3 separate regions of the Homo sapiens genome follow, and all the other regions are linked to region 3. The links come from fine-mapping of genetic effects on gene expression. A gene starts in region 3. Each other region holds a variant in brackets. All regions are shown on one strand. Distances are from middle to middle.

What was found. PIP is the estimated chance that this variant, and not a neighbour inherited with it, causes the effect. A credible set is the group of variants that fine-mapping cannot tell apart.
Region 1: its variant is the best candidate, but not a certain one, in a credible set for the expression of WSB2 in whole blood (INTERVAL, PIP 0.81).
Region 2: its variant is the best candidate, but not a certain one, in a credible set for the expression of WSB2 in tibial artery (GTEx, PIP 0.50).

The regions. Positions count from the first base shown.
Region 1 is chr12:118,026,611-118,030,834 of GRCh38, forward strand. It overlaps RFC5 (replication factor C subunit 5), which reads left to right. Exons shown (of 11, transcript NM_007370.7): 8 at 279-408; 9 at 1,343-1,420; 10 at 3,161-3,215. Among named protein-coding and RNA genes, the nearest start is that of RFC5, 12 kb to the left of the region's middle. The variant G/A (reference allele first, on the strand shown) is at 2,064.
Region 2 is chr12:117,886,804-117,891,027 of GRCh38, forward strand. All of the region lies in intron 1 of KSR2 (kinase suppressor of ras 2), which reads right to left. Among named protein-coding and RNA genes, the nearest start is that of KSR2, 80 kb to the right of the region's middle. The variant A/G (reference allele first, on the strand shown) is at 2,650.
Region 3 is chr12:118,059,300-118,063,523 of GRCh38, forward strand. It overlaps WSB2 (WD repeat and SOCS box containing 2), which reads right to left and starts at 1,880. Exons shown (of 9, transcript NM_018639.5): 1 at 1,737-1,880. The coding sequence starts at 1,749. LOC124903030 (a long non-coding RNA gene) reads left to right here and starts at 2,161. Exons shown (of 2, transcript XR_007063479.1): 1 at 2,161-2,381. RefSeq lists a silencer at 1,290-1,339.

The sequences.
Region 1 (4,224 bases), 33 kb before region 3:
GAGAGCAAAAGAAAATGTTTTAAAAACAAAAGGAATCATTTGTTGCAAAGAAGGCAAAGGGAGGGAAGGATTTGGCACTGGAATAGCCAACAGGCTGTGGCATCCTCTGATGAGGTGACTCTTCCGGTATTGAATATGTGGGTTCCCACTGCCTTGTGCCCATAGAACTTTGCTGCTCACCTGCATTGCTGCCTTGGCAATTTCTTCTTGGCTCCCTGCAGCTTGGTGGCAGCTGTGACAGCCACTGTGATCTCCCCTTTCCCCCTCTGTCTACACAGAGCACCAATATGGCCTTTGGGAAGGTGACAGAGGAGACTGTCTACACCTGCACCGGGCACCCGCTCAAGTCAGACATTGCCAACATCCTGGACTGGATGTTGAATCAAGATTTCACCACAGCCTACAGAAGTATCCTTTCTCATGACCTCCTGGCCACCGAGACCTGAAGGTGGCCCCAGGAGTTCAGGTTGCAGCCAGCACCCACACCTTGCTGGCAAAGGATGACTGGCTGCAGGCGACTCTGGTCAGCTTGTTGTGGGAGTGAGATGTCTGTAGGTGGAGTGGGTACTTGTCTTTAGCACTCCAGAGTTCTTCTTGGAGGGCTCTGACCTTCAAGTCAGGGTAAGGCTTGAAGCAGCTTCACTCACAGATGGGAGAAAAGCTTAGGCCTTGGCATTGAAGATGCAGGAATTTTCAAGTGGTCATGATAGTGATAGCTCTTGTGCTGTGAAATGAAAGGCTAGGAATGGTGACACAAAGCCTTTTTGGAAATGCATTTGGGGCTGGGTGTGGTGGCTCATGCCTATAATCCCAGCACTTTTGGAGGCTGAGGCGGTAGATCACTTGAGGTCAGGAGTTCAAGACCAGCCTGGCCAACATGGCGAAACCCCGTCTCTACTAAAAATACAAAAATTAGCCGGGCGTGGTGGTGGGTGCCTGTAGTTCCAGCTACTCGGGAGGCTGAGGCATGAGAATTGCTTGAACCCGGGAGGCAGAGGTTGCAGTGAGCCGAGGTCATGCCACTGTACTCTAGCCTGGGTGACAGAGGGAGATTCCATCTTAAAAAAAAAAAAAAAGAAAGAAAGAAAAAGAAAACGCAGTTGGCTTTATTCTCTACTAGAAGGAGTTACAACTCTATCTTTCAGAAAGCCCTTACTGAAGATGAAACAAAGAAAAATAAAGAATTGGAGTCCAACACGTGCAGCTTCAAGTTGAAAGAGAAACAGTTGTGTTGGGATTAAAAGCCTTACTTTAAAAAGTCTCTTGCCCGGGTTTGGATTCAAAATTCTCTGCAGTATGTTTGTTCTGGAACTTGTTCCCTTTGCCTTAACTGCTCCTCTAGATATTACAGAGTTGAAAACTCTGAAGGGGTTGGCACTGCATGATATCCTGACAGAGATACACTTGTTTGTGCATAGAGGTAACTTACATTATCCCCCAGCTGAGAAGCTGTGGAGAAGGTAGCCTGCTTTGGGGTTAAGGATGGTTAGGACAGGAGGCTTCATTCTTGAAGCAAAGAAACTAATGAATTGTAAATCAGACCCTTCTTGTTAGCAGTTCTGTCTTGCCACTGTTTAAAATTTTGTTCCAGAGCTGGGTACGGTGGCTCAAGCCTGTAATCCTAGCACTTTGGGAGGCCAAAGCAGGCAGATCACCTGAGGTCAGGAGTTGAAGACCAGCCTGGGCAACATGGTGAAACCCCGTCTCTACTAAAAATACAAAAAATTAGCCTGGCATGGTGGCGCACGCCTGTAATCCCAGCTACGTGGGAGGCTGAGGTGGGAGAATCATTTGAACCTGGGAGGTGGAGGTTGCAGTGAGCCAAGATTTGCCACTGCACTCCAGCCTGGGCGACAGAGCTAGAGTTTGTCTCAAAAAAAAAAACAAAACAAAACACAAAAAACGTGTTCCATAAACCCTCTTTTAATATCTAGAACTGCTGGGGAAAGTGAAAACTCCTGGAGGCTAACTTTATTTCCTCTAGGGGTTTATATTTTATAGCAGTAAGTAGTATATATTAATTCACATTTCTAAAAAAAAAAAAAAAGTCTGTCTATCTATCT[G/A]TCTATCTAGATATATATTCCCAGAAAAGAAAGAGAAGATATGTAAACCATGTAAACCAAAGCAGGCTTAAGGAAAACATCTTAAGTTCCACACTTGCCTGTACCTTCTACACAGAGAATTGGTTCTCAACCTTGGCAGCAGATAGGGGCACTCCAGACAAATTAAGTCAGCTTCTCGGAGGACAACCAGGCATCCGTATTCTCTAAGCTCCCCAGGTGACTTGTGTAGGCTTTCGGAGAAGCTCTTCCTTCCACAGTGGCCAACTGCAAGATGGAGACTTAACCGGGTCAATGAATGTTGGTTCTGCCCAGGCCTTCACAGGCCTCTTCCTGGCTGGCCCATGCCATGCCTTCTGCCCAAGGTATGGTTGGCTCAGGCCCAGCTCTGCACCTTGATTGTGGAAGCTGAGCATAAACCAACTTTAAAAAATCAGTTGTTTGTGCTTGGTTTTTAAATGGGGACAGGATCGGTATAGTGGCTGACGCCTGTAATCCCAACACTTTGGGAAGTCAAAATGGGTGGATCACTTGAGCCCAGGAGTTTGAGACCAGCCTGGGCAACACGGTGAAACCGCATCTCTACAAAAAGTACAAAACAGCCAGGCAAGGTGGCGCACACCTGTAGCCCCAGTTACTCAAGGGTCTTGAGGTGGAAGATCCCTCAAGCCCAAGAGGTCAAGGCTGCAGTGAGTCATGATCACGCCATGCCATGGCACTCCAGCCTGGGCAAGACAGTGAGACCCCGTCTCAAAATAAAGTAAAATATAAAATAAAAACAGCAAGTGGGAACTCAGCATTCAAGTTAACTTGTAGAGCTACCCAGCTGCTAAGAGCAGTGTGATCTTTGGTGCTCTTAGGATCACTTTGGTATCTGCTCATTTTCCTTTTTGTCTACCCTATAAAGCACAAAATCGAGTGGGTAAAAAGTATGAAACCAGCACTGTTTCTACTTTCTTAGAGGTCTGGTATCTAGTGAGCAGGCTGAGGCCTCAGGACTAGTTCAGTGTTAAGGATTTCATGTTGAAACTCATTTGTCCTCTGTGGGTTTTTTGACAGTAGAGAGTGACCTAACTCATTTGATTTTGTTTTTCCCTCAGTTGACTTTCCATCTTCAGTTCGAATACATTTATTGACCAAAATGGCAGACATTGAGTGAGTACTTCTTGCCCCAGTTTTAATTCTTTTCTTCCTTTTTTCCCCTGTTGTGAGTTATTTGTTTCAACTTTCTTGGTTTCAGGTTTTTTTCCTAAATCGTTCACATACGGTACAATCTAGTCTGGTGATATTGAATGGAATGTGGGGAAGGGTGTGAGCTGCTTAAAGAACATGGGGATAAATTCACAGGTCAAGTACAGATCAGTTACATATCTGAGATGAAGGCCTCTCCTTGGACCTCACAGGCTCGGCCCACATTGATTCTGAAAATGCCCTTGTTATTTGGGAGGCCTGCTTTGCTTCAACCACCCAGCTGTTATTAAGGCATTTTGGCATACTAAAGCATATTGGGGGGAAAAGTAAACACAAACTCAATTTTCTGCTTTGCCTGGTTCCGTAAACACTGTTATTAGCCCCCAGTGAAGCTGGCAGCTATCATTTAAGTAGACAGAGCATTGGGTTCAACATAGACGTCAGCATAGGCCAACTCTAATTTGTGGCATTGGCTTTCACAGGCACAAATTAGGTCACCTCTCCTCATTGCATTGTGAATATGATGATTTTGCTATCAGTGGCTGGGCATTTAAAAGGTGGCGAGATGAACTCCAGTGTCCTGCTTTACTGACTAGACCACAGACCCACCAATGTATCAGCCAAACTTCCCGATGAAATGGCTTAAGAGGAAGGAAATCTCTGTTTTGTTTCCCTCTTAACGTATTTTGCCGACGAAATAATCCTTCATTACATAAATTTTGTATATCTGTATAGTTAGGACAAAGTTAAGTTCAGAACACCGCTGTTGACACCTAATAATTTATTTCTTTTTTTGAGACAGAGTCCCACTCTGTCGCCCAGGCTGGAGTGCAGTGATGCAGTCTCGGCTCACTGCAACCTCTGCCTCCCAGGTTCAAGCGATTCACCTGCCTCAGCCTCCTGAGGAGCTGGGATTACAGGCATGCACTACCATGCCCAGCTAATTTTTGTTTTTTGTTTGTTTGTTTTGTAG
Region 2 (4,224 bases), 170 kb before region 3:
TCCTTCTTTTTCTGTTTCTTTTTTGCTATGTATATTTTATCTCATGTGCATGTATTACCTGGCTTATTAAAAAAAATAGTCTTCCCCTATGAAAGACAGAGAATACCTTTTCTTCTTTTTTCATTGTTATATTTTTTTGAGACAGAGTCTTACTCTATCACCAAGGCTGGAATGCAGTGGTGTGATTATGGCTCGCTGCAGCCTCGACCTCCTGGGCTCAAGTGATTCTCCCACTTCAGCCTCCCCAGTAGTTGGGACTACGGGCGCTCATTGCCACACCGGGCTAAATTTTTTATTTTTAGTAGAGATGGAGTCTTGCTCTGTTGCCTAGGCTGGTCTCGAACTCCTGGGCTCAAGTGATCCTTCTACTTCAGCCTCCCAAAGTACTGAGATTACAGGCCTGAGTCATCATGCCCAGCCGGATTTTTTTTTCTTTTCTTCTTTTTCGGTTTTTGTTTTGTTTTGTTTCATTTTGTTTTGTAGAGACAAGGTCTTGCTATGTTGCCCAGGCTGGTCTTAAACTCCTGGGCTCAAGCAACCCTCCTGCCTTGGCCTCCCAAGTGCTGGGATTACAGGCACGAGTGACGGCACCTGGCCCCTTGACTTCCTTTCCATCAAGAGACTAAGAATCAGGCCAGGAGGGAGAGGTTCAGGTGAAGTTTACATGCAAACCCAACTAGGTCAAATCCAGCATACCCAGGCCTGGTGGAACCACGTGGAGCAGAACAGGCCCTTGACCAGTCCTGAGAATCCAGTGTTTCAACAGGAGGTTCTGTGTTAGGGAACTAAAAACCCTCCCCAAAGTGGCTTCAACAAAGGAATTGTTTAGTTACACAGCAATAATCCAGCAGCATGGTGGCTGCCAGGGTTGCTTCACTCAGTGGCTCATCAGCAGTATCAAGGGCCCTGGTAGGGTTGAGATGGCTGTGGCATTTCCATGTGGGCATCAGCAGAAGAATGACCATTCTCACCAATGTTTCCTTTCATGCATTAAAAAATAAAAATAAAAAAAAATTTTAAAAAACTCTCCTCCACTGGCCACCCCTCATATCCCACTGGCCAGGAGTGGGCAGCCACATGGCTATGATCAACCAGTGATTGCAAAGGGAACGTCACTGGCCTAGACCAGTCATGAGCGACATTGTCTCAAGAGCAGGCTGCTCAGATGAGCAAGAACAAAACTGGATTCAGGAAGCAAGGATGACTTTGGATAGGCAAACAGAGTGTCTTCCACACCCAGTGCCTACCTGAAGAAGGGCTTAATGCTTCGTAACAATATTTCCAAGTGTAGCCTTTTCTCCAGCCCCAAAACCCTTTTGAGAATAACCATCAAACTACCAGCATTCTTCAGTTTTCATTTAGATATTTGATCTTCAGTTTTTACGTAGGGCACTTTCAACCATTCTCTTGGAGGCCAGATTCAACCCTGGACAATGCTTCTGGGAATATTCAAAGACACAAACACAAATTTGTATATTTGTATTCAAATATACAAATAAATGTTCCACCATATATCAAAAGTATGCTCTCCAAAAGGACAAATACTCTATGACTCCACCTACATGAGGTGCCCAGAATTGCCAAATTCACAACAGAAAGTACACAAGAGATTAGGAGTGGGAGTGATGGGGAGTGTTCTGAATGTGTGTCCCCAAAAGCCATATATTGAATCCCTAACTCCCAGTTTGATGGTATTTGGAGATGGGGGCCTAGGGAGTGATTAGCTTTAGATGAAGACCTGAGGGTGAAGCCTCCATGATGGGATCAGTGTCCTTCTAGGAACAGGAAGAAACCAGAACTTTCTCTCCACCATGTGAGGACACAGAAAGAAGGTGGCCGTCTGCAAGCCAAGAATAGAGCCCTCACCAGAACCTGGAACCTGACCATGCTGACAACCTGGTCTTGAACTTCCCAGCCTCCAGAACGGTAAGAAGTAAATTTCCATTTTTTTCTATATATGGGAAAATAAATTTAGATTTTATTTCTATTGCTTAAGCCATCCAGTCTATGGTATTTTGTTACGGCAGCCCAAGTTGACTAAGTCAGGGAGTTAGTGAATTTCATTTTGGGGTGATGAAAAAGTTTGAGATGGATAGTGGTGATGGTTACACAACAATATGAATGCACTTAATGCCACTGAACTGTAAACTCAAAAATGATTAAAATGGTAAACATTATGTTACGTATAATTTACCACAATATTTAAAAATGAATGCTCCCACAGGTCTTATAGTGTCTGTCTTACAGGTATGGAAACCAAAGTGCAATCAGGCACTTGAATGATGCACCCAGCATCTTCCATGCAAGTTATGGGTGGAGGTAGAATTGGAACCCAGGTCACCTAACTCCAAGGACGGTGTGCCCCTTCCGCAGCTCAGATGCCTCTCCCAACTCAGGCCACATGTAGAAGGAAAATCCAAGCATGAGAGGCAGTTCACCAGCAACGGAAATCAGATCTCTTGTGGTTATTATTAGCAGGGCGAGCAGCCGGGTGTGGAGGGGACCAGCTGTGAAACTCTCATGGGAGGGGAAGCCAAGGTGAAGTGGAGGGAACTCGTGCCCCCACATCACAGCAGCAAGCTCTGCAGTTACAGAGACCTCAAACTTTCCATCAACAATCCTCACTCGCAGCCTCTTAGCTCTTGGGGG[A/G]AAATTAACACAGGTCCCAGGGCTGAGATTTTCCATGTTTAGTTTCAACCCAAAGGAAAATTTTGTTAGAAAGTTGAAAGAGTGTGACTATTTTTAAATAACGAGACGTGGGGCCATAGTGTCAGCACAGTCAAAAAGGTAAAAAACATTTGTATCTTGCTTTCTTCCACCCTCCCCTTCAATTCAGATGGATAGACTGCAGAAGAAAACAAGGGAAGTTAACACTTCATTCAGAGCTTGCCAAATGTCAGGAACTTGCTTTATCCTGGACCAGGAGTTCTCAACTGTAAGTGATTTTGTCCTCCAGGGGACTTTGGCAATGTCTATAAATATTTTGGTTGTCACAACTTGGAAGATGGGGAGCTGTTACTAAAATCTAGTGGGTAGAGACCAGAATTGCTCTTCAACATCTTTCAATACACAGGACAGATCCCACAACAGGGAGGTATTCACCCCCGAATATCAGTAGTGCCAAGGTTGAAACACCCTCTCCTACTCTAAGAGTCCTCAAACTTGAGCATGCATTAGAAAGCCTTGGAGGGCTTGTGAAAACACAGATTGCTAGAATCCCCCCAACCCCTACTCCCTGCCACAGCTGCTGACTCAGTAGGTCTGGGGAACCATCCAACTTTGCGTTTCTAACAAGTTCCCAGGTGATGCTGATGCTGCTGGTCCAGGGACCGCATTTTGAACAGCACTGTATTGGATCATCCTCGAAAAGGTCTTGAGACAATGGTACTGTTCTTCCTATCTTATGTCTTTGAGATCTAAGGCTCTGAAGGAAGAGAAGTGTTACCTAAAGTCACCCAAGTCACACTGGGTCCCATAAGCTAGTAACTAGTTTGATCTTCATACCAAGATCAGTACAATCTCCAGCCTCTAGGGGTGTCCACAGGCTTTAGAGCCCAGCCACATGTCCACAGAGCACCAGATAGTACCTTTGGTGTGAATCTTCTCTGACATTTACCATCCTCAACAAATGGAGCTTCTGAGCTCCAGAGTAAAGGGAACAACCTTAGAATTCTACAGTAGTGCTCTCCCGAAAACACTGCTTAGAAGTCTAGTCTTTTTAAATAAGCTCACTATTTAAAGGTCCTCTCTGTGTTAAAGCCTTTTGCAGGTTCTAAGAACTTTTCATAGAAGAACCATATTTGTCCATGCTTCCATGCCCAATTTACTTAATGGGAAGACCTATGCATTTGGCAGATCCATTTGATTGCATTTGATTGCATTTGATCCATTTCTTGCATTGTTTATATACCCATAAGCTAGAAATTTTTTCTTCCCACTTAGATGCACCGTGGGACATCTCTCTGCCATATCTTGCATCACACTTGGATGGTGTAATGGAAATAACATTAGACTGGGAGTCAGGAGACTTGTGTTCCAGCAGAAGGGAAAAAGAAGTCTCAGAGTGGAATATTGCAACATCCCATATTCTCCCGAGAAGGGCTGCTGGATTCCCTTGCTGATGAGGAATTACCATGGGGTCACCTTGCTACATGGTTCATCACTGTCATCCCTCCCTTCAGAAAAATTAAATCATTCAAAGGTCACATAAGAGGTCAATGGCAG
Region 3 (4,224 bases):
CCTAGTTCTTTTTTCTTTTTTTTAATGTGGCTACTTGAACATTTTAAATTACATACGTGGCTCACATTAGACTTCTGTTGGTCGGGGCTGGCCTAGAGGGTGCCTGGCACATAGTAGACGTTCAACAAATATTTGCTGAATGAATAAGTGAAGTCTAACCATTGCTCTGAAGATTTCAACTGTTGCCCATTGTATTTCCTTTACAATGGGCTTTATTCCATTTGAAAATAAGTTAAAACTCTGGCCTTTTTTGTACAGTAACTTGGCAGCTCTCAACAACCCTGCCCACACCCTCAAAACGAAGTTGTCAATCTTTAGGAAAACCCCAGAACTGGAAACAGATTTCTGTTAAAAAGGCAGGCTAGCTACAGATTGCTTTCAGATTGAACTGTAAGGAGGCAATGGAAATCAAACGGAAGCTATAAAAAGATTCACATAGGATCTACACAAACAGTAGGGGCCCTTTTAAAAAGAATTCTACGGGTAACACTCACTGAAAAGAAAGCCCTTATCTAGATGGGAAGGAGAGAGAGCTGCCTTTAACTCAATGCCTGACTTCAGCAAACAAAGAAATGTCATTTCCTAAATTAAAAAGTAACACCACCCCAGGGAATACCCAGATTTCAACCTTCCCACCCACAGTAACAAGCCATCAGCAATCAGAACCCTCCAGACCAGGATGAAGCTTGAACTTGGCTGCAAGATTACCATGAAGTTCTGGAACAAATTCTGAGCCCTAGGCCTTGAACCTGCTCTGAAAATTTCTCCTAAGGAAATTACATTTAAACTCGGGTCCTTCAAGACCTGGGACTCCCGGAATCAATTCTAAATCTATCCCAAGTGGGGTTCCGAGGGAAGGTCGTTGGAGGGGAGAGGGCCAAGGCGTGCATGCGTCTTGGGGTTTTTTTCCCCTTGCATAAGAGACACACCTTTCCCACTGAGATTTTATGTTCATCTGGGCTGGCTTGAGGTATATCCAATATCCTCTGACTTCCACGCTGTCTTCTGATGGGGATGGCAGTTAACAAGAATAGAGGCAAGGTCCCCACCCATCAGTGTATCCTAAATTTGCCTGATCATACATGTCACCAGGGATCAGCGTCTCCAGTCCCGCCCCACCTCCACTGACTTAATCTCCAGTGGGAGAGGCTGGGAATAGATTGTTTCAATAGGGAACCCAGACCCCAGACCCCATTTTTACCGGGTCCCAGCCACCCTCCGAGGAAGGTACTAGGATTATCCCATTTTGCAGATCAAAACTGAGACGTGGGTGGCGGTGGTTCAGTGGCTTGTCCACTGTCACGATCACACAGCTTGTGAGGGACAGAGGTGACTCCCATCCAGACATGCAAGTGCGTCCCCTGGCACCTGGGTACCCAGGGGCACCCACCCCCTTGGGGATCTCCGTTTTAGGGCTTGGTGCCCCCCGCCCCGAGTCCCACCCGGGAGCCCCCTCTGTCCCGGTCGGGGGATCTCCTCCCGCAGAAGCCCGATCTTCCCGATCCTGTCGCCGGCGGGAGTCAGGGTGGCGGCCACTGACAACGAAAGTGAAACAAAGCTGGTCGCCGGGCGCGCACCCCCGCCGGCCCCGCGCGGACCTCCCAGGCCGGACGCCCCCGCCGCGTCCAGCCCCCGCCCCACCCCGCCCAGCCCGCCCCGGGGTCGCCTCCCCCCTCCCCGGGGAGAACGGGCCAGGGCCCCGCCGGGCGGGAACGGGCGCGCCCGGCCCCACTCACCTCCGGCCTCCATGGAGGACGCGAGCGGCCCCCGCGGCAGGCGGCGGGCGCCTCAGCCCCCCGGGCCGCGGGCCCTCATGCCGCCCCCGCGCCGCCCGCCCCGGCCAGGCCGCCGCCGCCGCCCGGAGAGGCCATCAGCTGCTTCCCGTCACATGGCGGTGGGCGCGGGCGGAGACGCGCGGGGGCGGGGCGCAGGGGAAACGGAGGGGGGGTGCGGACGGGATAAAAACGGTGGGGGGCAGCTGAGGGAAAAGATGGAAAATCGGGGAGGCGGTACGCTGACGGGATAAAAGCTGAGGGGTTGCTCAGGGGAAACGGGGGCGGGGAAGACGCGCGAACCAGATAAAAATGGGGCAGGGGTGGGGGGAGCTGAGCGGAAACGGGGTGGGGCGCGAACGGGATAAAACCCAGGGGTTGTGCGGGGTCCTGAGGGGAACCAGCGCCGGATAAAAACGGGGAAGGGAGGGAGGTGAACAGAGCTGAGGGAAACCGGGAAAAGGGGAGCGATAGAAACCGGAGTAGGGGAAGCCGGGCTCAGGGGAAAAGGGGGTGTTGGAGAGTGGTAGAGCCGGGCTGAGAGAAAAACCAAGCAGGGGAAGCGGCGATCCGGGGAGAACGGAGAGAGGGAGACCGAGGGCTGTGGGGGTAAGGGGAACCAAAGGGGCTGAAGCGAAATCGAGGGGAGGGGCAGGTGAAAATGGAGCCATGCGAAGGCCGATGAGGGGGGAAACGGGTAAAAATGGGGGCGGGAGAAATAGGTTGGAGGGAATACTGGCCGAGAAGAAACCTGGGGAGAGCTGGGCTTAGGGGAAAATGGGGAGGGGGTGGAAGGAAGGTGTAATAACCGGGTGCTGGGGAGGACGTAAGAATTGGGGGGTGCGGCGAGGGTCAAGGCTAGGGTAAAACAAGGGGGGCTACTCAATGGCTCCGGTAATGGGAGAGGGAAGTGAGGAGAACACGGGGCGGTGGGGAGAGGAGGGCAGGGTGAAAACCGGAGTGGGGGTGGGAACGAGATAAAAAACGGGGCAGGAGCGATTCGGAAGAAGACTGTCCCCTTACCTACCTACGGCGACAGCCTCGCCTGTCCCCGTCCCCCTGAGAAACCTGCTCTCCCTGTCTACCCGCATAGCCTCAAGAAATGGCTCGCTTGGGTCAGACGCCCCCTTTTTAACATTCCAGGGCCAGGGCAGGAGTCATCATGGAGGCTTTTCATGCCTGAAAGACCCCATTTCTTAGTTGTCCGGTCCCCAGTAGTATCAGTGGCTTGGGGATTTCTTACTGAGCTCAGCTCATTGTCCCCAAAATGCCTCCCCTTACCCCCAACTCGAGCGCTTCCCTTTCCTGCTTTGGGCCCAAGCTCTTCCCGCGGTTCTTGGTGTCAGCTTCATTCAAGTCACTCTCCCGCCTCTCATTCCTTTCTCCCCGCCTTTCTTCGCTTCCCTCCAAGTGCCCTCTCCATTTGCCGGTCACTGGTCCCAGAGCTCCGGATCGCAGTGGTTCCATTTTAAATTTCTTTGCTTCCTAACGCAACCTATGTTTTCTACGGTAACTGAGGTTCCCGTGTTCTTTTTCACCATGGTCTCTCCGTTTTAATGTTTCGGGTTTTTTTACCCAGGCCCCTGTTTTATGAGCCCTGGGTACGTCCTTCCTGTGTCCCGTTTGGCCTCCTGGGTTACACTCCTGTTCACCCCGCTTGGCCGGTTTTTTTTTTTCTTTTCTTTGAACCTGCCGGTTTCTCAGTCTCCCCCTTTTCCGCTGGCTACCTGTCCCTTTCTCGCCGCCCATGTTAACTTTAGCATGCCCCGTTCTCTCTCTTCATTTTCCACTGGGTATTTTTTATGTTTCCCAATTTTAAAAACGGCCCAGCGCACCCCTTTTTTTGGGACTCCACTTTTATCTCTGGCACCAGTGTCGGCCTCCTCCACCTCTGCTCCCATTTAATCGCTAATTTCCTGCCTCCTGAGGACCCCCGTTTTATTGTCCAGGCTCCCCCCTCCCATTTTTCTCTTCTCTAATTTTCTGAGTCTCCATTTTTTGTCTCCCAAATTCCTTCGATTCCTGGAGTCTTACAGGCCTCGTTTTTATGTACACGTCATGGAAAAGAATAAAAGGGTAAGGTCGCGGGGCGCGATGGCTCATGCCTGTAATCCCAGCACTTTGGGAGGCCAAGGCGGGCAGATCACCTGAGGTCAGGAGTTCGAGACCAGCCTGGCCGATATGGCCAAACCCAATCTCTACTAAAAATACAAAAATTAGCTGGGTGTGGTGGCGGGCACCTGTAAACCCGGCTACTCGGGAGACTGAGGCAGGAGAATCACTTGAACCCAGGAGGTGGAGGTTGCAGTGAGCTGAGATCTTGCCATTGCACACCAGCCTGGGTGATGGAGGCTCCGTCTGGAGGAAAAAAAAAAAAAAAAAACAAAAAAGGCGGGGCTGAGGTGAGAAGAATATTGTTACCAATTTTTAAAAAGCTAGTAAAAAAAATTTT